4 linked regions of the Homo sapiens genome follow. The protein of the gene in region 1 purifies or fractionates together with the protein of each later gene. This does not show direct contact. Each region holds a gene or a part of one and is shown in the gene's direction. Other genes may lie near its edges.

What was found.
Region 2: the proteins of RAB11FIP4 (region 1) and DUSP14 purify together in Homo sapiens (affinity purification with mass spectrometry; 2 studies listed by BioGRID and IntAct, with this or other methods). This does not show direct contact.
Region 3: the proteins of RAB11FIP4 (region 1) and SPECC1 purify together in Homo sapiens (affinity purification with mass spectrometry; 2 studies listed by BioGRID and IntAct, with this or other methods). This does not show direct contact.
Region 4: the proteins of RAB11FIP4 (region 1) and TNIP2 purify together in Homo sapiens (affinity purification with mass spectrometry; 2 studies listed by BioGRID and IntAct, with this or other methods). This does not show direct contact.

Annotation. Positions count from the first base shown.
Region 1 is NC_000017.11:31,527,326-31,534,870, forward strand, and holds part of RAB11FIP4 (rab11 family-interacting protein 4), read left to right. Parts: intron 1-516; coding exon 517-598; intron 599-1,080; coding exon 1,081-1,218; intron 1,219-1,294; coding exon 1,295-1,453; intron 1,454-3,000; coding exon 3,001-3,144; intron 3,145-4,290; coding exon 4,291-4,407; 3' UTR 4,408-7,545. UniProt on the Homo sapiens protein: Acts as a regulator of endocytic traffic by participating in membrane delivery. Required for the abscission step in cytokinesis, possibly by acting as an 'address tag' delivering recycling endosome membranes to the cleavage furrow during late cytokinesis.
Region 2 is NC_000017.11:37,506,433-37,513,977, forward strand, and holds the end of DUSP14 (dual specificity protein phosphatase 14), read left to right. Parts: intron 1-4,244; 5' UTR 4,245-4,332; intron 4,333-5,748; 5' UTR 5,749-5,840; coding exon 5,841-6,437; 3' UTR 6,438-7,066; downstream 7,067-7,545. UniProt on the Homo sapiens protein: Involved in the inactivation of MAP kinases. Dephosphorylates ERK, JNK and p38 MAP-kinases. Plays a negative role in TCR signaling by dephosphorylating MAP3K7 adapter TAB1 leading to its inactivation.
Region 3 is NC_000017.11:20,011,981-20,019,525, forward strand, and holds part of SPECC1 (cytospin-B), read left to right. Parts: intron 1-5,164; exon of another isoform or gene 5,165-5,625; intron 5,626-6,006; exon of another isoform or gene 6,007-6,122; intron 6,123-7,545.
Region 4 is NC_000004.12:2,746,196-2,753,740, reverse strand, and holds part of TNIP2 (TNFAIP3-interacting protein 2), read left to right. Parts: intron 1-5,795; coding exon 5,796-6,086; intron 6,087-7,545. UniProt on the Homo sapiens protein: Inhibits NF-kappa-B activation by blocking the interaction of RIPK1 with its downstream effector NEMO/IKBKG.

The DNA of each region.
Region 1 (7,545 bases):
GTGGTGGCTCACTCTTGTAATCCCAACACTTTGGGAGGCCAAGGTGGGCGGATCACATGAGGCCAGGAGTTTTTGAGACCAGCCTGGCCAACATGGCAAAACCCGTCTCTACTAAAAATACACAAATTAGCTAGGCGTGGTGGTGCATGCCTCTAATCCCAGCTATTCAGGAGGCTGAGGCACGAGAATTGCTGAAGGAGTTAGAGGTTGCAGAGCTGAGATTGTGCCACCTCACTCCAGCCTGGGCAACAGAGCAGGACTCTGTCTCAAAAAAAAAAGAAAGAAAATAAGAATGATAATTTACTATTTTGCTTACAAATAGTCCTTACTATTTTGCTTTGGCTGATAGGAAGCTCACGGCTAAATTGTCTTTGACATAATAATCATATTCTTTCTCTCAGTTGGTTTCTGGTATCTTTCCTCTGGGAGGAAGCAGAGAATCACTGCAGACTGGCAGGCGCTTATCAGATAGTCTACATTCCAGGTTTCTGAGATTTGTCTTTCTCCTTTCGCCAGGGTGCAGCAGTTGGAGGAAGAAAATACAGAGCTTAGAACAACAGTGACTCGGCTCAAGTCTCAAACAGAGAAACTGGATGAGGTGAGCAGCAGATCCAGGCTTGGAGGGGCAGGGCTGGCCATCGGGAGCCTTTAGTTTATTGCTTCTGAAATTCTAAACAAATGCCGCACCCCCTAAGAAATGCAAAAAAAGTGAATAACAACTTGTGTTTCTGTATTTCTGATTTTCCAAGTTTTCTACAGCGAATGTATTTATTACTTTATACAATGGAGAAAAATTAGTTTTAGAAAGAGGTTAGCTTCTATTTGGGCTAACACCTTCAATTCAGGTTGCATCTAGCATCGTTGAAGGACTTCAGAGGCCTGAGGTTTTTAGTTGTATTTCTAGAATCATCGGGGCTCTGGCCGTTTCTGTAAGCCAAGACTCAGGGCTCCGTCTAAGGGAGCTGGTTTCACTGTGCATCTGCCTCGTGAAGATGGCTGACCAGACCCCAGGGACACCCCTGGACATAGTGAGCCCCTCTCTGGGAACTCTCCTCCCCTGATCGGGTCTCCCTGCTCCAGGAGCGGCAGCGCATGTCTGACCGTCTGGAGGACACCAGCCTGCGGCTCAAAGATGAGATGGACCTGTACAAGCGCATGATGGACAAGCTGCGACAGAACCGCCTTGAGTTCCAGAAGGAGCGGGAGGCGACGCAGGAGGTAGGTCCCAGGCCAGCAGGCACCAGGGCTCCTTCCAGCATCCCTGCTCCTGCCAACCTGCTTCTCTCCCTCGCAGCTCATCGAGGACTTGCGGAAGGAGCTGGAGCACCTGCAGATGTACAAGCTGGACTGCGAGCGGCCAGGCAGGGGCCGCAGTGCCTCCTCTGGCCTAGGCGAGTTCAATGCCAGGGCCCGCGAGGTGGAGCTCGAGCACGAGGTCAAGCGGCTCAAGCAGGTGGGTCTAGCAGTCTCTGTGTCCAGTGGGGCAGGGTGGCCGGGCCCACCACGTGGGTTTCCTGTGCAGGATCTGTGGTAGGGGAGCCCAGAGCTGTAGCAGCACTGCCTGTCTGCTTCTCAGCAACCTGTTTGCCAGGGCTGACTGCCCCATTTCACAGCTCAGGAAAATCGATCCAAAGATCTCTCCCTTACGTCTATGTAAGGAAATAGACCCTGCCTTGGTGCTCAGGGTGGAGGATGAGACCATACCCAGCTGCAGTATAGTGCCTGGAGGCATTGGGTTCTCCCAGAAGTAGACCCTCACCCAAGGTTCCTTTTTTTTTTTTTTTTTCCCAAGAGACAGGGTCTTGCTCTGATACCCAGGCTGGAGTGCTTTGGCACTCCATAGCTCACTGCAGCCTTGAATTCCTGGGCTCAGGTGATCCTTCTGCCTCAGTCTCCCTAGTAACTAGGACTACAGGCACACACCACCATGCCCAGCTAATGTTGTTTTTGTTTTTTGAGGCAGGGTCTCACTGTGTTGCCCAGGGTGGAGGGCAGTGGTGTGATCACAGTCACTATGGCCTCAAATTCCTGGGCTCAAGCAATTCTCCTACCTCAGCCTCTCGAGCAGTTAGGACTACAGGAGAGCACCACCACACCTGGCTAATTTACTTATTTATGTATTTATTTCCAGAGATGGGGTCTCCCTATATTGCCCAGGCTTGAACTCCTGGGCTCAAGGGATCCTCCCACCCTTAGTCTTTGAAAGTGTTGGGATTACAGGAATGAGCCACTGTGCCTAGCCAGAAGATTACATTTCAAGGAGCGCTGCCTTAGCTAGAGACCTTTGGGTGGGGGAGTGGATCAGGAGGAGGCAGTGGCCAGGTGGTGCTGGGTGAAGTGTCAGCTCTGCCTGACCCTGCAGGTGGAAGAGCCTGCAGCATAAATTATCCTTCTGAGTTTGTTCCACTGGGGACAAAGGTGCTGGTGGCTGTGCTCTCACAGAAATCCTAAAACCCCAACCCTTCTCCTAGTCTAGGGGTGGGGTGCCCAGGGTCCCAGGTGTGAGCATTAGGGCTCTTTAGGCAAAAGCTGGAGTGTGAGACCGGTGCATGGGATCTGGGCGGGTCCGCCTGGGTCAACTCCAACCAAGCAGGATTCGGAACGTGGCTGCTGGGGGAGCCAAGGAAATGAGCTGGCCAGCCTGCCCAGAGAGCCCAGAGCATCACTTCCTTCACTGGGCTGCTGGGTGGGTGATGTCCCTATGCAGGGCCTAGGGAGGAAGGGATGGCCAGGAGCCTTGGCTGCGCTGAGCAGGGCTGTAACTCCTCCACAAACCCTGTGCACTCCCAGGATGCCAGTCCCCTGGACCAGGACCCAGCCCTCCTTGCCCCCAGCGCTTGGCAAAGGCTGCAACATCTATGGCCCCTTGAACCAGCCGTGACACACACCTGTGGGAATGGCGCTGGCGGCAGGTCGGGGACGGTGGATGTGGAGAAGTGGGTTCCAGTGGGCTGTGGATGCCTCTTGGGGTTGATGTCGCCTTCGTCCTTCTCTCTGTAGGAGAATTATAAGCTGCGGGATCAGAACGACGACTTGAATGGGCAGATTTTGAGCCTCAGCCTCTACGAAGCAAAAAACCTCTTTGCTGCCCAGACTAAAGCCCAGTCTCTGGCTGCGGAGATAGACACCGCCTCGCGCGATGAGGTAACCACACCACCGGCTCTTGCTTTGGGGCCTGGCCGCCCTCTGTGATTCCTTCTCCCGGCCCCCACCTGCCCAGAGTGAGAAAACCAGACCAGGGCCTGGCAGAGAGTCCCATCTACAGCTACCCCACATGACAGGGCAAGGCTGTGAGCAGGGGAGGGGGCTGCTGGAGAAGTTAAGTCAGCTCTGAGTTCCGCCTGTGCTGGAAGGAGTGCGGGTTTGGTTCAGAGTGGAGTGTGAGTCTTAGGTCGGCCAGAAAAATGCCAACATAGCCAGCTGAGTGGATCAAGCTGTGACTCTGGGTTAGGCTATCACTCCCGCTCTTCCCAGTCCAGAGAGGGAGGACATTAGCATTTCCCCAGCACCTGCTTCTGCGGTGTGTTTTCACTTAATCTCCTGATGACTCTGAGGCTTTAGGAACAGCTCCACATTCCAAGCTGGGAAGGTGGAACCCAGGACCACCCAGCTAGGGAGGGAGAGGGACCCAGCTCTCTCCAAAGCCAAAGCCTACCCTTCCTGCCACACCAGAGTATGCTTATGAAAGATCAGGCCTCCAAAATGCCCCGGCTGCATTGTAACATGAATTACAAGACACTCTGTCACTGAGCCTCACCCTCTGCCTGGGACACGGGGTGAAGAGCTGACCTCTGTCCTCAAGGAGCTCCCAGGTGAGCTGGGCCCCAACCCCTGGGCAGAGGCAGCATGTCAGCAATGTCCGAAAGAACACTGCCCTGGAGAAGAGCAGTGTGGGGCTGGGGGTGGGGAGAGGTGTTCCAGGCAGGAGACAGCTCCCCTTTGGAGTCTTAGCGGCCCTGGGACTTTGTCAGTCTTGATTTTAAATGACTTTGGCTAGTGTTTTCTACTTTTGCAAAAAATTACCCACACCTGGGCCCCCTCTACAAACTGATCACATTGGAATCTCTGGGGGTGGGGCCTGGGCACCTGCATAGGTAATACTAGGGGCTGAGCCACTTCGACTCTGGTCCTGGCATCCAAATGCTGAGGCTGTCCTGGGGCCCACCTTGCCCAGGATCTCCTGATGCCCTCTATTGTCAGGCACTGGCCTGCGACAAGCCTGGGAGTCTGGACTCTGCCTGCACCCTATCCCAGGCCCAGCCACTGACCCGTCTTTCCCATTTCCTTCAGCTAATGGAAGCCCTGAAGGAGCAGGAGGAGATCAACTTCCGGCTGAGGCAGTACATGGACAAGATTATCCTCGCCATCCTGGACCACAATCCCTCCATCCTCGAGATCAAACACTAAGGCACGGGGCTGGCTGCAGAGCAGCCTTAGGACCCTGGGACCAAGGGCAGACCCTGCCCAAGGATGCAGGCCTAAGCCGGGCCTCACACTCACACTGTAAATGTCTCTCTGGCCACCATGCGTTACGTGTACCCGTGTATATGTGGGGAGGCTGTGCACACGAGCGAGGGGTGAGTGGCCGTGGCTGTGGGCAGCATCCACACGGTTAGCCGTGCATGCACTTTGTGGCCCCTTTGCAAGGGGCAGAGGGTACTGGAAGTGGGAGGAGGCAAGGTCTGCTATCAGGAGTTACTGTAAAAACAAGAACTGGAAGCTCGTGTTTCCGGTACTGGGTAAAATGATTCTACCTCTGGGGATAAGGATTCACATTCGCTCTAGTACGATGGGCTCTTTCACCCCACTCCTAGTCCCCTTGGGAGTGGGAGCAAAATTGTGATCTTTCCTAGGAGTTTGAATGCCCCATATTTGTGTCCTCGCCAGCTCTTTGGCCACCTTTCAAGCCCCAGTGTTCAAGCTCAGAGAGGATGAAGGGGCATCTGGAGGGTCCATGAGATGGGGCCCTCACCAAATGCCTTGGCCACCGGCCAGCAGCCCTCTGTGATGTGTGTGCAGAGTGAACAGAGGACTCAGGTTTCATAGCAGCTAGTGCGGGGCATCCTCATCCTGTACCTATAGAGTTCGTGCACTCCCCCATCCATGCTACCTACCTCCCCGTTTCTGTTTCAGTTTTAAGACAATGAAGCAGCATTCACTGCGTCATTGTAACATGAAGGGATAAAAATGAAGGAGAAGGAGGGTTTGGGATGGGTGTCTAAGGCAGGAGTTGACATCGGGCAACCAAAGAAATGAGTTTTGGGGAGGAACACAACTCCCATCCCAGTCAGTTTCCTTCCCATGGCTGCATCTTAAGATGGATGCACGGAGAAACCGTCTGCCTGGCTCCCTGTCTTCATTCTCCACGCAGCCTGGTGATGGCAGGCCTGGGTTTGGATTTCAGAATCCTAGCTCCGGGCTCCACTCGTGTGGCAGCAAGACTGCTTCGTTCCAGCGTTTAGAAACACACCTGTATTTGATTCTCAGCCAGGGGAGCACTCGCTGCACTGGTGGGAGGCGGTTGGGAAAGTTGCAGGAAAACCTTAGTCTTCCATCCTTCTGACCCATGGTGGAAATTCACACCATGGATTTTTAATGGATCTTTGTTCTAGGCAGCTGGGAATAGACATGGTACTTACCTTAGAGTTTTCCAATTTATCTCAATTTTATATGGCTTGTGATTCATTTTCTTAATCCAAATATATATAAACGTGTGTGGTCTTATTCTTCCCCCTGCAGTTTCTTGCTTTCTTCAGCACATCTTATAGTATGAGAAGGAAGGTTTGGGCATGTTGGGAAGGGCGGTGGAGGGGGAGTTGCAGAAAGAGAGGGCAGTGAGGGTGAGGAGAGGGGATCTGGGGACTTGGGTGTGACACCTGCTTGACAGAGGCAGGGCTGTGGCCAGGACCAACCTTCAATTCCATTCCAATCAGCCTTTGCATTTGTTGGATCTCGTGGCTTCTTTTTAATCTTTTGTTGGGGATTAGTTTCATGCTGCACATAATGGGGTTGCACTGGTCTGACCCAGGACTTTGGAGCCACCCACACTGGGAAGACTAGGCTAGGCAGTCGGTCTTCTAGGAGTTTCTCAGCCCCTTAGGACGCGGGTCTCCTTGGGCTCCCCCAAGGGTTCTGCGAAGAGGCAGTGGAAGAAGGCATGAGGAGAGGGTCTCTTGAGAATTTGCCAATAGGAAGGAGTGGCCACGGCTGAAAGGAACAAGACAGATCCTGACATAGCTTTGGCCTGGGTGTTAGGTCAGAAGGAGTACTGGTGCGTGGGGGCCTTACCCCAGGGTTGAGTATTTTATCTGTAAAATGTTATCTGCCCTTTGGCTGCATTGGAATTTCAGAGAAGGCTGCAGAGGCCTGGGTTACACAGCCTGAGTCACAACGTGGGAAGGAATCTCTGCCACGGGAAAGGTGGGCGGAAGCAGCTGGCAGCCTGGGGCGTGCTTCAGGCTCCTCCCTCTAAGGGGCGCCATGGGAACAGGCTCCGGAGGGAGCCGGCGTCTGAAAGGCCCCCGGGACCTGCTGCAGTGCCAGAGGGGCCTCTGGAGCAGGCCTGGCTTTTAAATGGGGGGCTGAATTCCAGCTCACACACACCTCAAGTCCAACCTTACTTTCTTCAGCCAGAATACATTTCTTGTAAAACCTGGCTTGTTGCTTGGCTTTTAAAGATGGTGTATGTTTGTAAAAATATTCTTCTGGGCTCAAAAGCTAGCTTGAGGGGGCAGATGCCCCAGGTGTCCCAGCTCCACAGCCCCTGGCAGATCCCAGACCCCTTGGTGGCAGGTCCCAGAGCCTAGGTGGTAGGAGCTTGATCTTTGTTTCTGCCCTTACCCCTCAGTAGTGGGGCTGCGAGGTAGTAGACAGGATGCCCAGTTAAGTTTGAATTTCAGATAGAAAATAATTTTAGAATAAATATGTTCTATCTAATACATGGGACAGATGTTATTTTTAGAGATAGGATCTTGCTCTGTTGCCCAGGCTGGAGTGTAGTGGTATGATCATAGCTCACCACAACCTTGAACTCCCAGGCTCAAGCGATCCTCCCGCCTTAACTGCCTGAGTAGCTGGGACTACAGGCATGCACCACCACGCCCAGCTAATTTTTCTTATTTTTTGTAGAGACAGGGTCTCACTGTGTTGCCTCACTCGAGCTGCTGACCTCAAGTGATCCTCCCACCTCAGCCTGCCAAAGCACTGGGATTACAGGCATGAGCCACCATGCCTGGCCAGGACATATTTGAAATGGGGAGATTTTAAAAATTCTGATGATTAGACTGAATCCTCAGACGTTCTGGTTTGATTGTTGTGGGTGTAGCCCAGGCATGGGATTTTTTAAAGAGCTGCTCAGGTAATTCCAATTTAATTGCGTGTCCTACTTGGGTTTTTTGTTTGTTTTTATTGTTTTTGCTAAACCTGGCAACCCTACCGAGTAGGGATTAGCAGTAACTTATCTGAAATTTAGAGGTGTTTTGGGGGTGGGGCGAGGGTTTCTGTAGTAGACTCAGATTTTACATGGCCCTGAGCTGCCCTTGCGTT
Region 2 (7,545 bases), 6.0 Mb from region 1:
TGGGAAGGCCAAGTTGAACACCATAGACAGTGATGTGGTCATTCTTAAGCATTCTTCCTGGTCATCATCGTCCCAGAGACCATTGTCCTGCAGTGGGATGGCATGTTCACTCAGAGAGCACCATGCAATTTGTGATCCCTCAAATACGGGTCAAACTCTGCTACCCTATCTCCTTTCCCTGTCTCCCAGGACACATTTACTGAGTAGATTTTCATGCACCTGTGATATAATACCCATGGGTTTTTTATTTTTTACCATCCAGTTCTACTGATCTGATCTGAGAACTGGCTGACTCTAGGGCTTCTTGTAGTGCCTACTCTGGGGCTGCTCCTTGCTGAGGTCCACCCTCTGCAGCCAGGGGGATGTTTTGTGCACCAAATGGTGTACCAGGATGTGGCAGTAGTTCCCTGTTCTGGCACTAGGGGAAACTGGAGCAGCTCGGCCCATCTGGGCTTAGCCTTTCTGTAAGTAGCACTGAAACACCTTCTTAGGCAGATCCACACCCCCCCGCGTGTGTGGCAGACGCTGGCTGGTGGTGTGGAGCGCCGCGAGGCAGGTGATGAGAACACAGCCACGATTTAGTCACCGCAGAGAAGCAGTGTGTGGACTTGAGCTAGAAATCCGGACACCTTCCATCTTTTCCTAGTTTCACTTCTCAAGTTGAAATCTCTCACCCTTTCTGAACCATGTATTTTCCAATCTGTCAAGGGGGTCAGGAGTGTTTGTCAGAGAAGCATCTATAGCATCTGTGCCCTCTACGTGCCCTCTGGCGGAAGTTGTTTTCCTGAAACTTTGGACCAGCTTTGGCATTTTAAGCAGGTTTGTTGGCAAAGAGATGGACTGGCAGCAGCAGGGAGGGAGCAATGTGTCTGTCTCACTTGGATTCTGCCCCGAGGGCTCACAATCTGTTTTCCCTGCAGCACCAAGTACCCTAGCGCCACTCAGCAAATGCGAGTTAACGGAATCAGCCCGGCTTCTACAGGGAACCTGGGCTCCTTTGCCTCAGGAAGGCAAGTGGCTTCCCAGACAGCGTAATTTGGGAGGATGCATCGCTCTGCCACCCAGGCTGGAGTGCAATGGCGCGATCTCAGCTCACTGCAGCCTCTTCCTCCCGGGTTCAAGCGATTCTCTTGGCTCAGCCTCCCTACTAGCTGGGATTATAGGCATGCACCACTGCACCTGGCTAATTTTTGTATTTTTAGTAGAGACGGGGTTTCACCATGTTGCCCAGGCTGGTCTCAGGTGATCTGCCCGCCTCGGCCTCCCAAAGTGCTGGGATTATAGGCGTAAGCCACCGTGTCTATGGCCAAGCCTCTCTGAATTAGACAACAACTAGATAACCTACTTGGAAATTTGATTAGCATCTTCCAGATTTTCCACAATGAGGAGCGTCATCCCCAGCAGCTTGAAGGCCTAATTTTGTGTTTATTACCACAGTGACTTTGCTTTTTAAACCAGTAGGATTCTGCCAGGGAAGACTTGGAAGTGGCAGGAGACCCTGCTCTGCTGTAGGAAAGGATGTTCTCAGAGTTTCTGCCCTGTTCATAGTTTACATCCAATGCACACACACGCAGTTTCCTTATGTGACTGCGTCCTTGTTCCTCCTCATGCTGTGATTTCACCTGTGGACTGCTCTGTGTACTCCCATAGCATTAACCAGTCATGGGATGTGGGCTCCCAAAGCGAGGCCTAGCCTCGAGTGAGGAGGCAGCTCCCTTCAGAGAAGGGCAGTGTCCAGGAGGGACTTGTGGTCTGTTAGCACCAGTACACCTGGTGCCTCAGTCTTCCAGGGGGAATGCAGACAGAGCCACAGCACTCACCTCTGCAGCAGTTCTCAGACGTGCCCCCGACCCGCAGCCTCACCTCAGAAAGGCAACTCTTCCAGCCCCACTCTGGAGGGACGGAATCAGAAGCTGGGGAAAGGTCCAGCAGTCTGTGCGCACAGCCCTCTGGGGGATTCTGAGGCATGCTCAGGTTTGAGAGCCCCTGCATTATAATGATAGAAATAGTTGTAAATGGAGCCAGGCACAGTGGCTCATGCCTGTAATCCCAGCACCTTGGGAGGCCAAGGTGGGTGGATCACTTGAGGTCAGGAGTTTGAGACCAGCCTGGCCAATGTGGCAAAACTCCGTCTCTACTTAAAGTACAAAAAATAGCAACGTGTGGTGGTGCACGCCTGTAATCCCAGCTACTCAGGAGGCTGAGGCAGGAGAATCTCTTGAACCTGGGAGGTGGAGGTTGCAGTGAGCTGAGATTGCGCCACTGCACTCCAGCCTGGGTGACAGAGCCAGACTCCATCTCAATATATATATATATATATGTATGTATAAATAAATATATATGTATATTTATAAACTTTTTTTTTCAAAAACCATTTTAAAATGTTAAACATACGTGTCATAGGACCCAGCCCTTCACTCCTGGGTATTGAACTGAGAGAGGAAGGCATATGTACGCACAAAGACCTGTACGTGGATGCTCATAGCAGCTGTACTCACAATACCTTTAAACTAGAGACAACCCAGGTTCATCAGTAGGTGAATGGATAAACAGAGTGTGGTGTATCTACACAGCAGAGTACTTAAGAAGTGAGCTGTTGATAACCCAGCGTCATGGGTGAATGTCTAAGTTATGCAGAGTGAAAGAAGCCAGACCAAAAAAAAAAAAAACCCATATATATATATATATATATATATACACACACACACACACACACACACACACACACACACACACTCTATATATATATGTACTATGTATATGTGTACTATATATGTATATATACACTATATATACACACTATATACACACTATATATATATATATATATATATATATATATATATATATATATATATATATATAGTGTGTGTGTGTGTGTGTGTGTGTGTGTTTAGTTTTTGAGACAGAGTCTTGCTCTGTTGCCCAGGCTGGAGTGCAGTGGTGCAATTTCGGCTCCACTGCAACCTCCACCTCCTCCTGGGTTCTAGTGATTCTCCTGCCTCAGCCACCCAAGTAGCTGGGATTACAGGTGTGTGCCATCATGCCCGGATAATTTTGGTATTTTTAGTAGAGACCTGGGTTTCTCCACATTGGCAAGGCTGGTCTCGAACTCCTGGCCTCAAGTGATCCACCCGCCTCGGCCTCCCAAAGTGTTGGGATTACAGGCGTGATCCACCACGCTTGGCCTATATATATTTATATGCTATAAATATATAAAAGTCCATTGATAGAAAAGTCTAGAGTGCAAACCATAGTGATAAGAAAGATCAGTGGTTGCCTGGGAATGGGGTAAAGAGCAAGAAAGGGTTGGATTATTAAAAAAAATGAGGAAATTTTGAGGGGGATGATGGATGTGTTTATTATTATGATGTACTGGTGTCTCCATTGTGTACATATGTCAGAACTCATCAGGTAATGTACCTGATCAAGTTGTATAGCAGTTTATATGTCAAGAACACCTCAACAGAGCTGTAAAAAAAACACGACAGGTCTGACAGTTACCTGGGAAAGGTGGGGGAACAGGTGGTAGAAGAACACATTTTTTATGATGTTCATGGTACTTACATAACATAAATGAATAAAATAGGGCCAACATGGAAAAGAAAACAAAATGAAGGAAAATGTCAAATTGCCATCCTGAACACCAGCACCGCCTGTAATTAGCGTTCCTGGCTGCAGCCACATCTGCGGTCCTGCTCCTCATGAAGCCGTCCTCCGTGCCATGTCCCGGCCATGCCTGTCCTTAGCTTCCTGGTGCACACTGTCCTCCACCTTGTGTTCAGGCACAGGGCTGCTTGGCTCACCCTTGCTGCACCTGGCCTGTCCGTCCTCCCACCGCGGTGCCGCCCAGGCCTTCCCACTGCAGGGCTGGCTAACGGTGCATGGAAGAGACTCGAGTCCGTGTTGTGTCCTCATAGCCCACCGAGGAGGCAGCAGTGCCGGACATTTCGCGGATAGGTTGTGGTCTCTGAGTCTCCTCCTCTCAAGAGGATGAGATTTGTCTGTGTTATTGTCAAAACTCTTATTTGTCACGCCGCGGGTTATGTGTCAGTAACAAAAAGCTGAGATTTAGGCCGGTGTTTCTTACTGGTGCAGCCTTTAAATGCACACCTGCGAATGTTCAGTGCACCTTCCGCTTCCTGGCTCTATTTCAGTCAAACCTGAGGTCGTAGTGAAAGTCGGTGAGGAATTCTTTGGAACTTCCTGATTGGCTGTGTCCTTGCCTCCTTGTCTTCCCGCAGATTTGATTTGTATCCACTGTCACCAGCACTGCTCACTTAGGACTTTCTGGATCCGGACCCAGGCAGCGCACACTGGACTCTTGAGGAAGTGAGTACCCCACCACTGCCTGCCTGTTGAACCCGGGGAGGCTCTTGTCTGACTGAAATCACTGCAGGCTTCCCGACGATCCCCTGGGTGTGTGTGGGCAGGCGCACTTGCCACTGGGCACAGGTGATAAAGCATTGTGATTTTTTTTTTTGGTGAGAGGAACGGATGTATCTAAGATCTCAGGAAACTGAGAACTTCCTTTTCTGCTCTTATTAAATGTCAATATATATATAATATATATCAATATATATGTAAATGTATATATTGACATTTAATAGCAAACACTGGAATAATGAGAGGATAGTGACGTTCAGACGTTAAAAGCCAGTGGGCTTCATCGTGGAGCTCAGAATTAAGGTGAAGTTATTTAGCCACACCCAAGGTCAGGTCAGGTAAAATGCTCATTTAACTTACAGGAATGAACTTTGAAGACCATGGCCTTCAAATTGCCTGGGATTATTTCCATGGAAATGCTACTGTGTTTACATTGTCACGAAATGATAGGAAATAGTTTTTGGTTTGGGTTTTTGTTTTTGTTTTGAGACAGAGTCTGTCACCCAGGCTGGAGTATAGTGGCACGATCTCAGCTAGTTGCAACCTCCGCCTCCCAGGTTCAAGCGTGTCTCTTGCCTCAGCCTCCCGAGTAGCTGGGATTACAGGTGCTCGCCACCATGCTCAGCTAATTTTTGTATTTTTAGTAGAGACAGGGTTTCCCAATGTTGGCCAGGCTGGTCTCGAACTCCTGACCTCAGGTGATCCACCCGCCTCAGCCTCCCAAAGTACTGGGATTACAGGCATGAGCTACCTCACCTGGCCTTTCCTTTTTTTTTTTTTTTTTTAGAAGCTGGGTCTCCCTGTTGCCCAGGTTGCAGTGTGGTGGTGGTGCAATCACAGCTCACTGCAGCCTCGACCTCCCAGGCTCAAGTGATCTGCCCACCTCAGTCTCCTGAGTAGCTGGGACTACAGGCATGCACTACCACACCCAGCTAATTAAAAAAAAATAAAAAATAAAAAATAAAAAGTTTTTTTGTAGAGATGGGGTCTCACTGTGTTGCCCAGGCTGGTCTTCTGGTCTTGAACTCCTGGGCTTAAGCAATCCTCCCACCTCAGCCTCCCAAAGTGCTGGGATTACATGTATGAGCCACCATGCCCAGCCACCCCCCCCCCACCCCACTTTTTTTTTTTTTTTTTTGGACAATCACCAGAGAGCTGAATTTTACATTGATTTCACATGTTTGTGTCTTAGGTGACTTTTCCCAACTGTTAATTGATAGAAAATGATTTGTCTGTATCCTTGAAAGATTGTACTGTATTATTTAAAAAAAAACCCTCTAATCTTCCCATTTGACAAATGTGACAGAAGGCTGTGATGAATCAGTAGCATTTAAAGTACTGACACATACCTGTATTTTGCAGGAAGGAGACTCTAATTTTGGATTCCTTGGTGGAGGAAAATAAAACACTCTGGTCTTGCCGCCAACGATGCAAGTGTGACTGCTGGCGTCTTCATGAGCTCCAGAGGTCACAGCACGCTACCAAGGACTCTCATGGCCCCTCGGATGATTTCCGAGGGAGACATAGGAGGCATTGCTCAAATCACCTCCTCTCTATTCCTGGGCAGAGGCAGTGTGGCCTCCAATCGGCACCTCCTCCAGGCTCGTGGCATCACCTGCATTGTTAATGCTACCATTGAGATCCCTAATTTCAACTGGCCCCAATTTGAGTATGTTAAAGTGCCTCTGGCTGACATGCCGCATGCCCCCATTGGACTGTACTTTGACACCGTGGCTGACAAGATCCACAGTGTGAGCAGGAAGCACGGGGCCACCTTGGTGCACTGTGCTGCAGGGGTGAGCCGCTCAGCCACGCTGTGTATCGCGTACCTGATGAAATTCCACAACGTGTGCCTGCTGGAGGCGTACAACTGGGTGAAAGCCCGGCGACCTGTCATCAGGCCCAACGTAGGCTTCTGGAGGCAACTGATAGACTACGAGCGCCAGCTCTTTGGGAAGTCGACAGTTAAAATGGTACAGACACCTTATGGCATAGTTCCCGACGTCTATGAGAAGGAGTCCCGACACCTGATGCCTTACTGGGGGATTTAGTGCCACTGAAGCCTGCGTCAGCAGCCCGAGCGGGGCCGGCATCTGCTCCCCGCCGTCTGCTCCCTCTCCACTCTCTTCTCAAATGGCTGACTTCTGGTTCTCCCTCAAGTGTTTTTTACACTGGGTGTTCAAATTTATTTTAAGAGATAGGGAGGGAGGGGACATAAAGGGAATGCATACATTGCTAGTCACATTTTTAAAATTAACATTTTGGAATAGTGTTTATGGAAATCTTTAGCTTTTAATCATTTTTACCAATTTGAACAGTTTAATAAACTGGTTCTGCTCTCTTCTGAATCTCATGCCTTTGGCACCTTGGTAGGTGCAGGAGGAGCTCAGTGCAAAAATCACTTTGGGGCCTCATTAACCCTTTAGAGACAAGCTTTGCCCCAGGCTGCGGACCAGACAGATGCTTAGGGAAGGTTGATAACCAGCTTCAGTCTCTACTGGATTAGCCCTACTCTTTCCTTTCCCCTCCATTATTTAGTGACTCTGTAAGTAAGTTAAATACACCCTTATTATTTAGCTGTTAAGTAACTATAATGAAATCTGCTGCAAAATCTCTCTTGGAATCCATGTGCCCAGGATTATATTAGCATTATTTTTAATAAATCTATATGCTTAACATATTAGAATTTTTACTAATAATTTCAAGGTGTGTGTGTGTCGATGATGGGAAAAAGGTGCTCTCCAGTAACTAACTAACTAACTGCTGAAATGTGGCTCCTGTGCCAGTTGGGAACATTACTTAAAATACACATCCCAGCAGAGTCTTGTCGGCGCGTCACATCCTGGTGGACAGGCAGACACACCGTCCCCGGTGCTGGGCCGGTGGGAGATGATTGATAGTGCACGCTCTGATCAGGGGTGCTGGTTTTGGTTTCCTCTTGGTTAGTGGAGCGCCCCGAAGCAGCGTGTCCTCCATCAGAGAAACTGGTTTTCAATAAAAGGTGCCTCTGCTTGACTATTATTACCACATACGAAAATGCCCTAAACCAAACCTCAGTATGAGCGATAAGCAAGTAACAAAAACAAACAATGGCTGCCTTTGTTTAACTTTGGGACTGTCTGTCACCCAGTTCACTGCTCCTGATAAAACGGGCAGCAC
Region 3 (7,545 bases), about 12 Mb from region 1:
TGATCAATTTTCTGTTTTTGTAATATCTGAAAATGCCTTTATTCTCCCTGTATTCTAGAATTTTGGTTTCACCATGTGTCTTCTATTGATTTCAGAGTTATTTTTGTATTTTTTTATATTTTTAAAAAGATGTTTTGTAGCTGGAAGGTTTTTAGGATCTCTATTCTGCCACAGTGCTGAAAGAAAAACAAAGATTAAGAACAGATTAATTTGCAGTCCACTGTCAGTCACGACTGTTCCCTGAACTCTTAGTATATTGGGTATACAGTTCTATATTAATCTCAAGTTTATTGATGGTAATTCAGGTTTTCTGCATCCTTAACTTATTTTTTTTCTCTGTTTGACCTGTTGATATGGAGAGTTGTATTGAAGACTCCCATTATGATTCTTGTAGGGGTTTTTGTACTATTTCTATGTTTAATATATATTTTTCTTTAAATGTTGTATTTTTGAAGCTGTTTTATGTGCTTAAAGGTTCACAATTCTTGTATCTTCTTGGTGAATTGTACCTTTTGGGAATAAACGAGCCATCTTATTTAATTTTTTTTTTGTTCATTCTCTTTATATTGCTGTACTTGCTTTTTGTTAGCATTTATATGGAATATCTTTTTCTAGTCACTGATTTTCAATTTTCTGTGTCTTCTTTAATTGTTACTCTTACCATTAGCTTATGGCTGGATTTTGTTTAATTAGTTAATCTTTGTCTTTTAATAAATATTGTGGTAAAATAACATAAAATTTATTATTTATTATTTTTATTTTTACCATTTACTACTTTTAAGTTTACAGTTCCCCAGTGTTAAGTGTGTGCACATTGTTATGCAACCAATCTCCAGAATTTTTTCATCTTACAAAATTGAAGCTCTGTATCCATTACCGCAGCCCCTGGCAACCACCATTCTGCTTTTTGTCTCTATGAATTTGCCTATTTTAGGTACCTTGCATGAGTATCTAATATAGTACCTCATATAGTATTTGTCTTTTTATAACTGGCTTATTTCATTTAATGTAATGCCCTCAAGGTTCATCCATGTTGTAGCATGTGTCAGAATTTTCTTCATTTTTATTGCTAATTAATATTCCATTGAATGTATACACCACATTTTGCTTATCCATATATTTATCAAAGGATATTTATGTTGGTTCCACATCATAGCTATTATGAATAATGCTGCCATGATCATGGGTGTACAAATATCTCTTCAAGACCCTGCTTTCAGTTATTTGGGTATATACCCAGAAGTAGAATTGTTGGATCAAGTAGTACTTCTATTTTTAATTTTTTGATGACCCAGCATAGTGTTTTCCGCAGAGGCTGAACCATTTTATATTCTCACCAGCAATGCGTGAGAATTTCAGTTTCCATACATCCTTGCTAACATCTGTTATTCTCTCTCTTTTTTTGATAGTAGCTATCCTTATGGGTGTGAAATCTTTGTCTTTTAATAGGTAGCTTTAGCCCATTTATATTTATTTTGATTACTGATCTTTTGCGGATTATTCCTGTCATCTTATTTTATATTTTTGATTTCCTTTTTTGAGACGGAGTCTTGCTCTATCGTCCAGGCTGGAGTGCAGTGGCACGATCTCCGCTCACTGCGACCTCCGGCTTTCGGGTTCAAACGATTCTCCCAACCCAGCCTCCCGAGTAGCTGGAATTACAGGCCTGCAACCACTATGCCCGGCTAATTTTTGTGTTTTTAGTGGGGACAGGTTTTAACCGTGTTGGCCAGGCTAGTCTCAAATTTCTGACCTCAAGTGATCTGCCTGCCTTACCCGCCCAAAGTGCTGAGATTACAGGCATGAACCACTGTGCCGAGCTGGTTCATTTCATTCTCATTGCTGTGTATATGCCATTGTATATATCCCTAATATAGATATACATTTGACTTTGATTGGCAGTTGGTTGTTTGCATTTTTGGACTATTATGAATAGTAAGTACATGAACACTCTAGTACACGTCTTTTGTTGAGTGAGTGTGTGCATTTCTGTTGAGTGTGTATCTGGGAGTGGAACTGCTTGGTTGTAGTCTGTGCATGTGCTCGGTTTTAGTAGATACTAGCAAACAGTTTTCAGTACCGGTTGCACCAACTTATTTACCCCAGAAGTATATGTGGTTGCTCCACATTCTTGCCAACTCTTGGTAATTTCTGTCTTTTACCTTTTAGTTATTCTGGTGGATACTGTGGTTTTAATTTGGATTTTCCTGATGATAAATGAATTTGCACTGTTTTGGTACCCTTAGTTTTTCACACATATCTAAACATTTTTTTCTCTTGCTATTAAAAGATAATCTGTTTATGTGAACTCTCCATGAGTAAAGCAAAAAAGAATCTTATCATGATTTTAATTCTGTCCCATATTAAATTTTTGGGTTTTCATACATTATGCATAAACAGTTATTTAGGTAAACTGTAAATTTTTCTGATTATTTACTCATCATTGGTGCTTTTATTTCATTTGTTTTCTTAATGAGTCCTTAAGTGATTATTTGGTTTTGTTTTCAGGGATTCTGTGAATGGTAAACTTTCTGAACCCTTGCATGTTTAAACAATGTTTTTTATTTCACTTTTCCATGTGAATATTCTTGACTGGGTATAGGATTCTACGTTAAAACCTTCTGAATTTTGGAGATATTGCTTTATCTGCTGGTATCTAGGAAGAAGTGCACGCGTCTGACTCTCGTTTCTTTGTAGTTAATGTTTATTTTCTCTGAAGCTTTACAATTTTTTTTCTTTCTCCTTGGTGTTCTAAAATTTAACTATTATTTGTCTAGGAGTGGATTTTTTTTTTGAGATGGAATCTTGCTCTGTCACCCAGGCTGGGAGTGTGGCATGATCTCGGCTCACTACAACCTCCACCTCCTGGTTTCAAGTGATTCTCCTGCCTTAGCCTCCCAAGTAGTTGGGATTACAGATGTGCACCACCATACCCAGCTAATGTTTGTATTTTTAGTACAGACAGGGTTTCACCATGTTGGCCTGACTGATCTCAAACTCCTGACCTCAGGTGATCCACCTGCCTCGGCCTCCCAAAGTGCTGGGATTACAGGCATGAGCCACTGCGCTTGGGCACCACACTGGCTTAAGAGTGGATCTCTTTTGTTCTTCCTGCTCAGCATTTGGTAGTCCGTTTCATTCTAAAGATTAATACACATTTCTATGGCACTGGAGAAGTTTTGAGTGTTTCCTTGCCTCTATTCTATTTTCTGCTTCTGGAATTATTCTTACTTGGGAATTAGAATATCTTGATTTATCTTTCATGTTTCTTGAAATAAGCATTTTTTTCTCTCAAATATTCTGTCTTTTTTAATTTAATTTTTTTTTTTTTTGAGACAGAGTATTGCTGTGTTGCCCAGGCCTGGAGTGCAATGGTGTGGTTCAATGTGACCTGCAACTCTTGGACTCAGGCAATTCCCCTGCCATACCACTGTGCCCAGCGGAAATGCTCTCTTTATCTTTATGGGCTGCATTCTGGGATGTTCCTTGGGCTGGTTTTGCAGGTCACCAATCTAATATTTAGATTTGTTCCGTCAACTCTTTAGCCCATCTCTTGAGTGTTTTTAAATATTGATTATCATATTTTTAACTTTCCGGGTCTCTATTTTTTTTTTTTTTTTTTGAGGTGGAGTCTCGCTCTGTCGCCCAGGCTGGAAGGCAATGGCACTATCTCGGCTCACTGCAAGCTCTGCCTCCCAGGTTCACGCCATTCTCCTGCCTCAGCCTCCCCAGTAGCGAGGACTGCCGGTGCCCACCACCACGCCCGGCTAATTTTTTGTATTTTTAGTAGCGACGGGGTTTCACTGTGTTAACCAGGATGATCTCGATCTCCTGACCTCGTGATCCGCCCGCCTCGGCCTCCCAAAGTGCTGGGGTTACAGGCGTGAGCCACCACGCCTGGCCACGGGTTTCTACTTCTTAAAGTTTAACTTTTGAAATAGGTAAGATAGGCAGGGCGCAGTGGCTCACGTCTGTAATCCCAGCACTTTGGGAGGCCGAGGCGGATGGATCACGAGGTCAGGAGATTGAGACCATCTGGCTAACATGGTGAAACTCCGCTTCTACTAAAAAAAAAATAAAATAAAAAATTAGCTGGGCGTGGTGGCGATTGCCTGTAGTCCCAGCTACTCAGGAGGTTGAGGCAGGAGAATGGTGTGAACCCGGGAGGCGGAGCTTGCAGTGAGCCAGGATGGCACCACTGCACTCCAGTCTGGGCGACAGAGAGCGACTCCATCTCAAAAAAAAAAAAAAAAAATAGGTAAGATAATCAGTGTTCAAAACCAGACTGTATTAAAAAGGCATAAATGAAAGTGAGAGGTGACAGCGTGCTGGCAGTCCTCGCTCGCTCTCGGTGCCTCCTCAGCCTTAGTGCCCACTCTGGCCGCGCTTGAGGAGCCCTTCAGCCCACCGCTGCACTGTGGGAGCCCCTTTCTGGGCTGGCCAAGGCTGGAGCCAGCTCCCTCAGCTTTGCAGGGAGGTGTGGAGGGAGAGGCGCGGGCGGGAACCGGGGCTGTACGCGGTGCTTGCGGGCCAGCGTGAGTTCCCGGTGGGCGTGGGCTTGGCGGGCCCCGCACTGGGAGCGGCCGGCCAGCCGGCCCCAACGGCCCCAGGCAGTGAGGGGCTTAGCACCTGGGCCAGCAGCTGCTGTGCCCGATTTCTCGCTGGGCCTTAGCTGCCTCCCTGCGGGGCAGCGCTCATGACCTGCGGCCCGCCATGCCTGAGCCACCCCCACCTCCTGGGCTCCTGTGCGGCCCGAGCCTCCCTGACAGCACCACCCCCTGCTCCACGGCGCCCAGTCCCATCGACCACCAGAGGGCTGAGGAGTGCGGGCGCAGGGCGCGGGACTGGCAGGCAGCTCCACCTGTGGCACTGATGCCGGATCCACTGGGTGAAGCCAGCTGGGCTCCTGAGTCTGGTGGGGACTTGAGAACCTTTATGTCTAGCTAAGGGATTGTAAATACACCAGTCAGCACCCTGTGTCTAGCTCAGGGATTGTAAACGCACCAATCAGCACTCTGTCAAAATGGACCAATCAGCTCTCTGAAAAATGGACCAATCGGTTCTCTGTAAAATGGAGCAGTCGGCTCTCTGTAAAATGGACCAATCAGCAGGATATGGGTGTGGCCAGATAAGAGAATAAAAGCAGGCTGCCCGAGCCAAGAGTGGTAACGTGCTGCGGTCGCATTCCGCGCTGCTGAAGGTTTGTCCTTTTGATGTTTGGAATGCGTTCTTATTACTGCTCACTCTTTGGGTCTGCACTGTCTATATGAGCTGCAACACACACCTCGAAGGTCTGCAGCTTCACTCCTGAAGCTAGCGAGACCACGAACTCACCAGGAGGAACGAACAACTCTAGATGCGCCCCCTTAAGAGCTGTAACACTCGCCGCGAAGGTCTGCAGCTTCACTCCTGAGTCAGCGAGACTACGAACCCACCAGAAGGAAGAAACTCCGAACACATCCAAACATCAGAAGGAACAAACTCCAGACACACCGCCTTTAAGAACTGTTACGCTCACCGCGAGGGTCCACGGCTTCATTCTCCAAGTCAGACCAAGAACCCACCAATTCCGGACACAAAAGGTGTTCCCACCATTCCTGTCCTCTTACTTCTCTCGCCTTACAAGTAGGTAACCATTGTTGTTAGTTACTTATGTACCTTCCAAAGTTTCTTCATGCAAATACAAGCAAATATGAATCAGATTCTCCATTTCTCCTTTTTTGCACAAATAGTAGCATTATTCTCTATCTGGTCTTCATCCTGTGTTTTTATTTCTTGGTATATCACAAAGATCGTCACATACCAACTGCTTGCTCTTTATAATGTCCCCTTAGGTCTTCCCAAGAATATCTAATAATTTCTTCTATGTGCTCTAGTAATTATCTTTGCTTGGGTTTGTGTTCTGTTGATTCAGTGTCCCTGTTTCATCATACTGAATAAAAACTTGGTGATTCTTTATGTGTTCATCTTCGAAGTTTGAGAATTCCTTTTTTCCTGTCTTACTAGGCGTAGCGTGCCTCCTGTGATTGTTGAAGAGCTGTGGTGTGCTGCTGAGTGGCGTGTGTATTCCATGTGAGGGGAAGGGTCCAACAGTCCTGGTCATTCAGACTGCAGTTCCCCAGGTAATCACCTTGTCAGGTTCTACCTCTGCTGTTCTATCTGCTGTTACAAGTCTGTTCCTGGAAACCTGTTACCATTTCCTTCTGCATAACAGCCTCCTCCCAAGCTTGTATTGGGCTATGGTTTGCTCAGGTAATCTGGTTCTGAGTACTTTTTACTTTTCAGAAATTTCCTAGACATTTTAGTTGGCCATCGGCACTCTTGTTTTCCAGGTTTCTTTTGATTTAGTGTTTTAAAAATGTTTCTACCATTCCATTGAATTTTAAGACACTTGGAAGGCAGAAGTATGTGTTTAGTTTATTGTTTTGGGGACAGGGTCTTGCTCTGTCTCCCAGGTTAGAGTGCATTGGCGCAGTCATAGGTCACTGTAACTTTGAACTTTTGGGCTTAACTGGTCCTCCTGCCTCGGCCTCCCAAAGCGCTGAGATTACCGGCATGGGCCACCATGCCCAGTCCTTGGTCTTTTATAATTTATTTCTGTGTTGGGGGCCCCCAGGACCATGCTCAGATCTGGTGGTTCACTTGGAAGACTCAGCATGTGGTGTACTCACGGCTGTAATTTATTACAGTGAAAGGATACAAAGCACAATCAGCAAAGGGAAAGGTGCATGGGGCCAAGTCCAAAGGAAGCCAGGCACAAGCTTCCAAGCATCCTCTCCCAGTGCAGTCACACAGGATGTATGTGCTTAACTCCCCGAGGAAGGAGCTGTGACAACGCATGTGAAATGCTGTCTACCAGGGAAACTCACTAGAGACCCAACACCCAGGGTTTTTATTGGGGGCTGGTCATGCAGGCCCCCTTTGCCCAGCACATACCACATTCCACGCTACCTGAAGAAAAGCAGGAGTTCAGCATAAACCACACAATAATTTAGGCACAGTGAGTCCCTCTTTCCAGGTTGGATGGTGGGAACCCTTCTGAAATCTAAGTTCCCAGGTGCCAGCCAAGGATTAACCATGCTTTTTATGAGACTTTTTAAGAATAACAGTCTTGGGCCAAGCACAATGGCTCATGTCTATAATCCCAACACTGTGGGAGACCAAGGTGGGAGGATCTCTTGAAGCCAGGAATTTGAGACTAGCCTGGCCAATACAGAAGACCCTATCATTCATTTATTTATTTATTTATTTATTTATTTATTTATTTATTTATTTATTTATTTATTTTAAAAAGCAGTCTTAGGCCTGCTGTGTTAACTCTTTTCTGTAAGATTTTCCTCCTGTGTTCCTCAGAAAAAGATGGACACTTTACCTAGAAATGACTTCTCCCAGTCAGATGGTCATGAATTTTTTTGCCTTCTCTGAAGAGAGAACACATTTGTATTAAGGTGAAACTGAGTGGAGAACATTTCCTGATGTTGGAGAAAGCCATAGCATGGCACGTGCTCAGCAGCCTTGAGAGGGTGTCAGTGAGAGAGCACAGAG
Region 4 (7,545 bases), on another chromosome or scaffold:
TGAGTACAGACCAAGGACCCGGAAGGACACTCCGAAGTCATCTCCAGAATGTTGGTGGGACAGGATGCAGGGACCTCACAACCAGAGCAGTATACTTGCAGTCGGTGGCCATTGGTGTTCCGCTCACATGTGTTCCCTGGTGTCCTGTGTATCTGGCCACTCACCAAGCAGCTTATTGCAGCTTCCTGGTAGCCTCAGATAGAATTAGTTCTGTGTTCCCAGTATTACTGGCCCTGGTCCTGTCTTCCCAACATGTAAGCATGTAGGTTTTGTTTTGGGATTTTTATTTTTTTATTTTTTTGAGACAGGGTCTCACTCTGTTACCCAGGCTGGAGTGCAGTGGCACAAACATGGCTCACTGTGGCCTCAACCTCCTGGGCTTACGTGATCCTCCTGCCTCAGCCTCCCATATAGCTGGGACCACAGGAGTGTGCCATCACACCTGGCTAATTTTATTTTTTTTTTGTAGAGACGGGATCTTGCTGTGTCGCCCAGGCTGGTCTAGAACTCCTTTCTTCAAGTGATCCTCCTGCCTTGGCCTCCCAAAGTGCTAGGATTACAGGCATGAGCCACCACGCCCAGCATGGGGGGATTTTTAATTATTTAAGGAACATTTTAATGATTTAGTTTTGTTTGTTTGTTTTTTTATTTTTATTTTTATTTTTTTAGAGACAGGGTCTTGGTCTGTGACACTGCCACCTAGGCTGGAATGCCTTGGGGCCATCATAGCTCACTGTAACCTTGAACTCCTGGGCTCAACCAGCCCTCCCATCACAGCCTCCCGAGTGTCTAGGACTATAGGCGAAGAGCCTACCACAAGGACTATGAGCCACCACACCTGGCTAACTTCTTAAGTTTTTGTAGAGAAGGGGTCGCATGATGTTGCCCAAGCTGGTCTCAAACTCCTGGCCTCCAGGGATCCTCCTGTCTCGGCCTCTCAAAGTGCTGGTATTACAGGCGTGAGCCACTGTGCTGGCCTTATCTGGTATTTTATGCAATTACATATTTATTGCTCATCCCAACGTTCAATCTGAGGTCGGTCATGGAACCTGTGGAAGAATGGAGAGGTTTGTCACCTCCTGCAGGCCCTGGGTTCACTGAGGTGGCAGTGCAGAGTTAAAGACACAGCAGGAAGCAAGCCGTTGCTAGGTTGCTCTCATCTATGAGAGCCCGTTAGGAGCAGGAACCCTGGACCAGTAGGGACTGAGGGCTCCCAGAGAGAGTGCTGAGGCTCAGAATGTGGAGGAGCTGACCAGTGCGTCTGTGATCAAGCTGCGGTCAGTGTGTGATGGGGCAAGATCAGGCCAGAGAATTGTGGTCCTCAGTGCAGCCACAGCTGGACTTGAGACCTTACCTCATCTGTAACACAAGGCCTGAGTGGATAACTTTACAAAGCCCCTCCAGTTAATACTTTCTGGAATAATGGCACCAATTCATTGTGCAACCTGGTCCTGCCCAACCCCATCCTGTCACCATTCTCGGGACCAGCTTCATAGGCTTTGCCTGGTCCTGGCGTATCAGCCCCCTTTCCCTTCCGGCTTAGCTTAGCTTTGCTTTGCTTGTTTTCTTGGCTCTTTCTTTTCTTTTCTCTTCTCTTCTTTTCTTTCTTTCCTTCCTTGTTCCTTTTTTTTTTTTTTTAAACTGAGTCTTGCTCTGTCGCCAGGCTGGAGTGCAGTGGCGGGATCTTGGCTCAGTGCAACCTCCACCTCCCGGGTTCAAGCGATTCTCCTGCCTCAGCCTCCTGGGTAGCTGGGACTACAGGCGCCCACCAGCACGCCTGGCTAATTTTTTGTATCTTTAGTAGAGGCGGGGTTTCACCATGTTGGCCAGGCTGGTCTTGAACTCCTGACCTCGTGATCCACCCACCTCAGCCTCCCAAAGTGCTGGGATTGCAGGCATGAGCCACCGCCCCGGGCCACCTTCCTTGTTCCTTTCTTTCTTCCTTTCTCCTCCCCTCCCCTCCCCTCTTTTTGACAGGGTCACTCTGTTGCCCAGGCTGGAGTGCAGTAGCATGATCATAGCTCACTGCAGCCTTGACCTCCTGGGCTTAAGTGATCCTCCTGTCTCAGCCTCCCGAGTAGCTGGGACTACAAACGCCCACCACCATGCCTGGCTAATGTTTTTTGTATTTTTTGTAGAGACAAGGTCTCGCCATGTTGCCCAGGCTAGTCCCAACCCTTGGGCTCAAGTGATCCTCCCACCTCGGCCTCCCAAAGTGCTGGGATTACAGGCTTTGGGAGAATACACTTCTGTTGTTTAAGACACCAAGTTTGTGATACTTTGTTGCCGCAGCGCTAAAAGCCAAGAGGCCACTGTGCCTCTTAAGGCCAATCCACAAGACTATTAATAGAGCTGTTTACACTTTTGTGTTCTGAGCGTGGAGCTATGGAGTTGTGGGTCCCGGCGACAGGCTTTCCTGAGAGATGTCAGCCCAGTTGCTGACTAGTCTGTGTGTTGTGCCTGTGTGTGTAGACCCACAACTCCAGCTCGTACCTTGTTTTCTGACCACAGTGGTCGAGGTGCTGTTGTGTCCTAAGAACTGTTACTAACTGGACAAGGCACTCAGACAGATAAACCAGCACAAAGCTCTGCAACTTCAGAGCCAGTGACAAATGCCAGAAGCCCGGGGGCTGGAGGGGTCCTGGGGCCCTCATGCTGCCGAGGGGAGGATGAGTGGGGCAGCCCTTTGCAGGGCTGGCCTGCCCCCACGGGTTGAGCGTAGAGCCTGCGTCCTGATCTGTCTCTGTATGGCCCAGTCTTATTCCCATTTACTGGGCATCTGTGTGGGGCTGGGCTCAGTGTTGAGTACTAGGGTGTGGAGGCAAGAGAGAGCCACGCCCTCAGGATCTACGAGCTGTGGACATGCTGCCCTCCTGTTTGTGGAGCTGTTTGTTTCTCCTACTGTCAGCATTTGACCAACGCAGGAAGGAGGCTCCGAAATCAGATTTTACCTGGGCACGGTGACCCCTGCTGAGGCAGGAGGAGGATTGCTTGAGGCCAGGAGTTCAAGACCAGCCTAGGCAACATAGCCACACCCTGTCTTTATCAAAAAAAAAAAAAACCAGAAGTCAGGTTTTGCTCAAAGTCCTTTATCCCTGAAGAGGGTCTCACTGTCACCCAGGCTAGAGTGCAGTGGCACCGTCACAGCACACTGCAGCCTTGACCTCGAGCCCATGGTCCCAGCTATTTGGGAGGTTGAGACGGGAGGAACACTTGGACCCAGGAGTTCAAGGCTTCGGTGAGCTGTGATTATACCACTGTATTGCAGCCTCGGTGTCAGGGCGAGACCCTGTCTCTAAAATAATAAAATAATAATAATAATAATAATAATAATAATAATAATCAGGGTTCTCGCAGTAATAGGGCTTAGTATTTTGTTCCATTGTGATGAGAACATTCTAGGTTCCCGGTCTCTGTCCCTTCTTACCTCAAGTACTAGACACAGAGGCTGGACCCTTCTCCCGCCACTTCTGGGGGAAGCTTGGGCTCCTCCGTGACTTTTCTGAAACTGTTTCTTCACTTGTGGGATGGACTAGTTGAGCCTGCTTCACCTCCTTCATGTAATGTACTGTTTATTTTGGAGGATTCTTTGAAAACGGAAAAGTACAAATTTAAGGCCAGATATTAAAAAATTGTCAGGTCAGATGTGGTGGCTCGTGCCTATAATCCCAGCACTTTGGGAGGCTGAGGCAGGCGGATCACTCAAGTCCAGGACCAGACTGGGCAAAGTGGTGAAACCTTGTCTCTGCAAAAAATACAGAAATTAGCCAGGTACGGTGGCATGCACTTGTAATCCAACTACTTAGGGTGCTGAGGCAAGAGGATCACTTGAGTCTGGGAGGTGGAGGCTACAGTGAACCATGGTGGCACCACTGTACTCCAGCCTGGGTGACAGGGCGAGACCCTATCTCAAAATAAAATTGTCATTTTAAGAACCTTTTTAAATTCTTTAAGAAGTAATTGGGGTTGGGTGTGTTAATTTCCTAGAGCTGCTGTAACAAAGTAACACAAACTGGGGGGCTTCAAGCAACAGAAATTTAATCTTTCACAGTTCTAGAGGCCAGAAGCCAGAAACCAAGGCATCGGCTCTCTCTCAAGGTTCTAGGGAAGGACCCTTCCTCGCCTCTTCAGCTTCCTGTGGGGGCCACCAATCCTTGGTGTTCCTTGGCCTTTATCCACAAGACAAGACGTCACTCCTATCTTTGTTGTCACGTGGTCGTCTTCTCTCTGTGTGTCTGTCCAGACTTCTGTCTGCTTACAAGGACACCAGTCCCGTCCTAATCCATTTTGTCCCCACCTTAACTAATTACATCTGCAAAGACCCTATCTCTAAGTAAGGTTTCATTCCCAGATACCGGGGAATGGGAGGTTTGGTTGTGGACATCTTTTTGGGGTTACCCACCACAGTGGAGTTTCTACCTATCCCATCAAAAAAGTGCTTGGAATTGCCACTTTGATAATTTGATGATAACTGGGTGTGGTGGCTTGAGCCTGTAGTCCCAGCTATTCAGGAGGCTGAGGTGGGAGGATTTGCTTGAGCCTAGGAGTTTAAGACCAGCTTGGGCTATATATAGCGAAACCCTCATCTCAAAAAAACATTTTGATGATATGAAATCTAAAATTATGAACTTGCTTGTGAAAATAGAATTTGGCAGGGCGTGGTGGCTCACACCTGTCATCCCAGCACTTTGGGAAGCCAAGGCGGGTGGATCTCTTGAGCCCAGGAGTTCAAGACCAGCCTGAGCATCACAGCAAAACCCTGTCTCTACAAAATACAAAAAAGTTAACCAGGCACGGTGGCACGTGCCTGTAGTCCCAGCTACTCAGGTTAGGATGGAGAATCGCTTGGGCCTGGGGAGGTCGAGGCTGCAGTGAGCCATGATTGTGCCACTGCACTCTAGCCTGGGTGACAGTGAGACCCTGCCTCAAAAAAAAAAAAAAAAAAATTGCTGGGCGCAGTGGCTCACGCCTATAATCCCAGTACTTTGGGAGGCCAAGGCTGGCGGATCATCTAAGGTCAGGAATTCGAGATTAGCCTGGCCAACATGGTGAAACCCCGTCTCTACTAAAAATATAAAAATTGGGCCAGGCGTGGTGGCTCACGCCTGTAATCCCAGCACTTTGGGAGGCTGAGGTGGGCGGATGCCGAGGTAGGCGGATCATGAGGTCAGGAGATCGAGACCATCCTGGCTAACATGGTGAAACCCCATCTCTACTAAAAATACAAAAAATTAGCTGGGCGTGGTGGCGTGTGCCTGTAGTCCCAGCTACTCGGAAGGCTGAGGCAGGAGAATGGTGTGAACCTCTGAGGCGGAGCTTGCAGTGAGCTGAGATCGCTCCACTGCACTCGAGCCTGAGCGACAGAGCGAGACTCCGTCTCAAAAAAAAAAAAAATTCTTTTAGCTGGGCTTGGTGGTGGGCTCTATAATCCCAGCTACTGAGGAGGCTGAGGTGGGAGAATCGCTTGAACCTGGGAGGTGGAGGTTGCAGCGAGCCAAGATTGTGCCATTGCACTCCAGCCTGGGCAACAGAGTGAAACTCTGTCTCAAAAAAAAAAAAAATTTGAGATGAAGTTTCAGAACAGAACATTGTAGGCTGAAAAACTCCAGAGTTAATAGTTCAAATGCCCAACTTCTGAGTGAGTAATTGTTAGTTCAAACGCCCAACTTCTGAGTGAGTATGTTTGTGTCTGGTGATGGGGCATCCACGCCAGGTCTTCTTTTGCTTTCTGAACATTTGCTCTTGACACTGCTTCTTTTAATTCAGTAAACTGTGCTTTTAAATCTTCCACTTAGGAAATTGAGAGGCTGACTGAGCGACTAGAAGAAAAAGAGAGGGAGATGCAGCAGCTGCTGAGCCAGCCCCAACACGAGCGAGAGAAGGAAGTCGTCCTGCTACGGAGGAGCATGGCAGAAGGGGAGCGCGCCCGGGCCGCCAGTGACGTCCTGTGCCGCTCCTTGGCCAACGAGACCCATCAGCTGCGGAGGACGCTGACCGCCACCGCCCACATGTGTCAGCATCTGGCCAAGTGTCTGGATGAACGACAGCATGCACAAAGGAATGTGGGGGAGAGAAGTCCTGACCAGGTAGGCCACAGTGTAAGCAGAGTGTGGGGAAGACCTCTGTGTGCTGGGAGCATCGCCTACAGGCCCCTGATCACAGAGGTGGGGGGGCGCCCCAGAACCCACTTCTGTTCTCAGTAACGAGAGTCAGCTGACGGGGCAAAGCTCACTCATCCAAGGGTTTCTTTTAAAATGATGGAACATGCAAAATGTAATAGGAAAGCAGGCAGCCACCTCACTGCCCAGCACCAGGCCTGTGGCCGACCCCGCTCCCAGGTGGGAGATGGCACTTGGCTTTCATCTGCCTCAGCTGAGGATGAGGAGGAGGAGCTGAGCCTGGCAGAGCTGCCTGGAGGAAGTGTAGTCACATCCTCCATCCGAGGAAACTGAAGCAGAGCCAGGTGGTACTGCTGGGGATGGGGAGTGCCTCCAGTTCCACACCCCAAACTCCTGGAAGGACCGTGAGTGCCCGCCTTCTTCAGGCTCAGTGTGTCTGAGTGCATGCAGGCACAGCTGGAACCGCCATCTCCAAAGCTGGCTTTAGGCATGTCCTTGCCAGCAGCACGGCCTCCCGCAAGCTTGGAGACCTGGCTCAGGGCCACAGCCTCCTCATCATCAAAGCAAGGGCCGGGGGCAGCGGCACCAAGTGACAGTGAGGGCCAAAGAAGGGTTCGCTGGACCTCCAGGATAGGCTGGATCTGGGCTGTAGCTCTCTGTGGGGTCTAGTGGGAGAGAGAAGGACCGTGGGAGTTTCAGCATCAGGAGAAACCAGGGGGCTCCTAGGCAGAAAAGTAGGGGAGCAGTGGCCCAAGGCATCTGTGTGCCAGGCACCTTCCATCTTGCTGGTGCTTGTGGTGGTCTGTGTGTGGCAGGCAGGGGAATGGAGGCACTCCGTGCACATCTCACCTAGGCTGAGACCCCATCTCACTCGCACTGCCGGGCACAGGGCCTCTCGCTCGGGTCCTTTCTAGGCAGTTCTCTGAGGCAGCACCAAGGTTCATGCAGAAACACACGCGCTGGGATGTTCTGTGGCAGACAGTACATCCCGCACCCATCAGCAGCTTCACCGAGGCGCCCACTGGGGAGAAGGTTGGTCTGAGAACTGCCCACCTCAGCTGGGTGGATTCCAGGCGGGGAACCTCAGAGAGGACACAGCTGCATTCAGAAACCAGAGGAAAAGTGCCGTCTGGGCGGAGGCAGGGTGTTCTGGTCTGATTTTGAGTCACTGTGTCATTTCCCTCTGGGGATTTGAAAGGAGCCACACACAGTGTTGAGCCTGAGGCGGGGGTGGGGCCAGTGGCAGGGTAGGCCCTCATCACAGTCTCTAAATAAGTGTCACTTCTCAGCCCTGAACTCAGCTGAGTCACCCGGGGCTTCCCGGTGTAGGCTGTGTTAGGACGTGCACTTCCTTTGTCATTTGAGGGGAATTCTCAAAAATTATGTCACTGAGATACAGTCAGAATTGTAGGGTACACACGAGTTT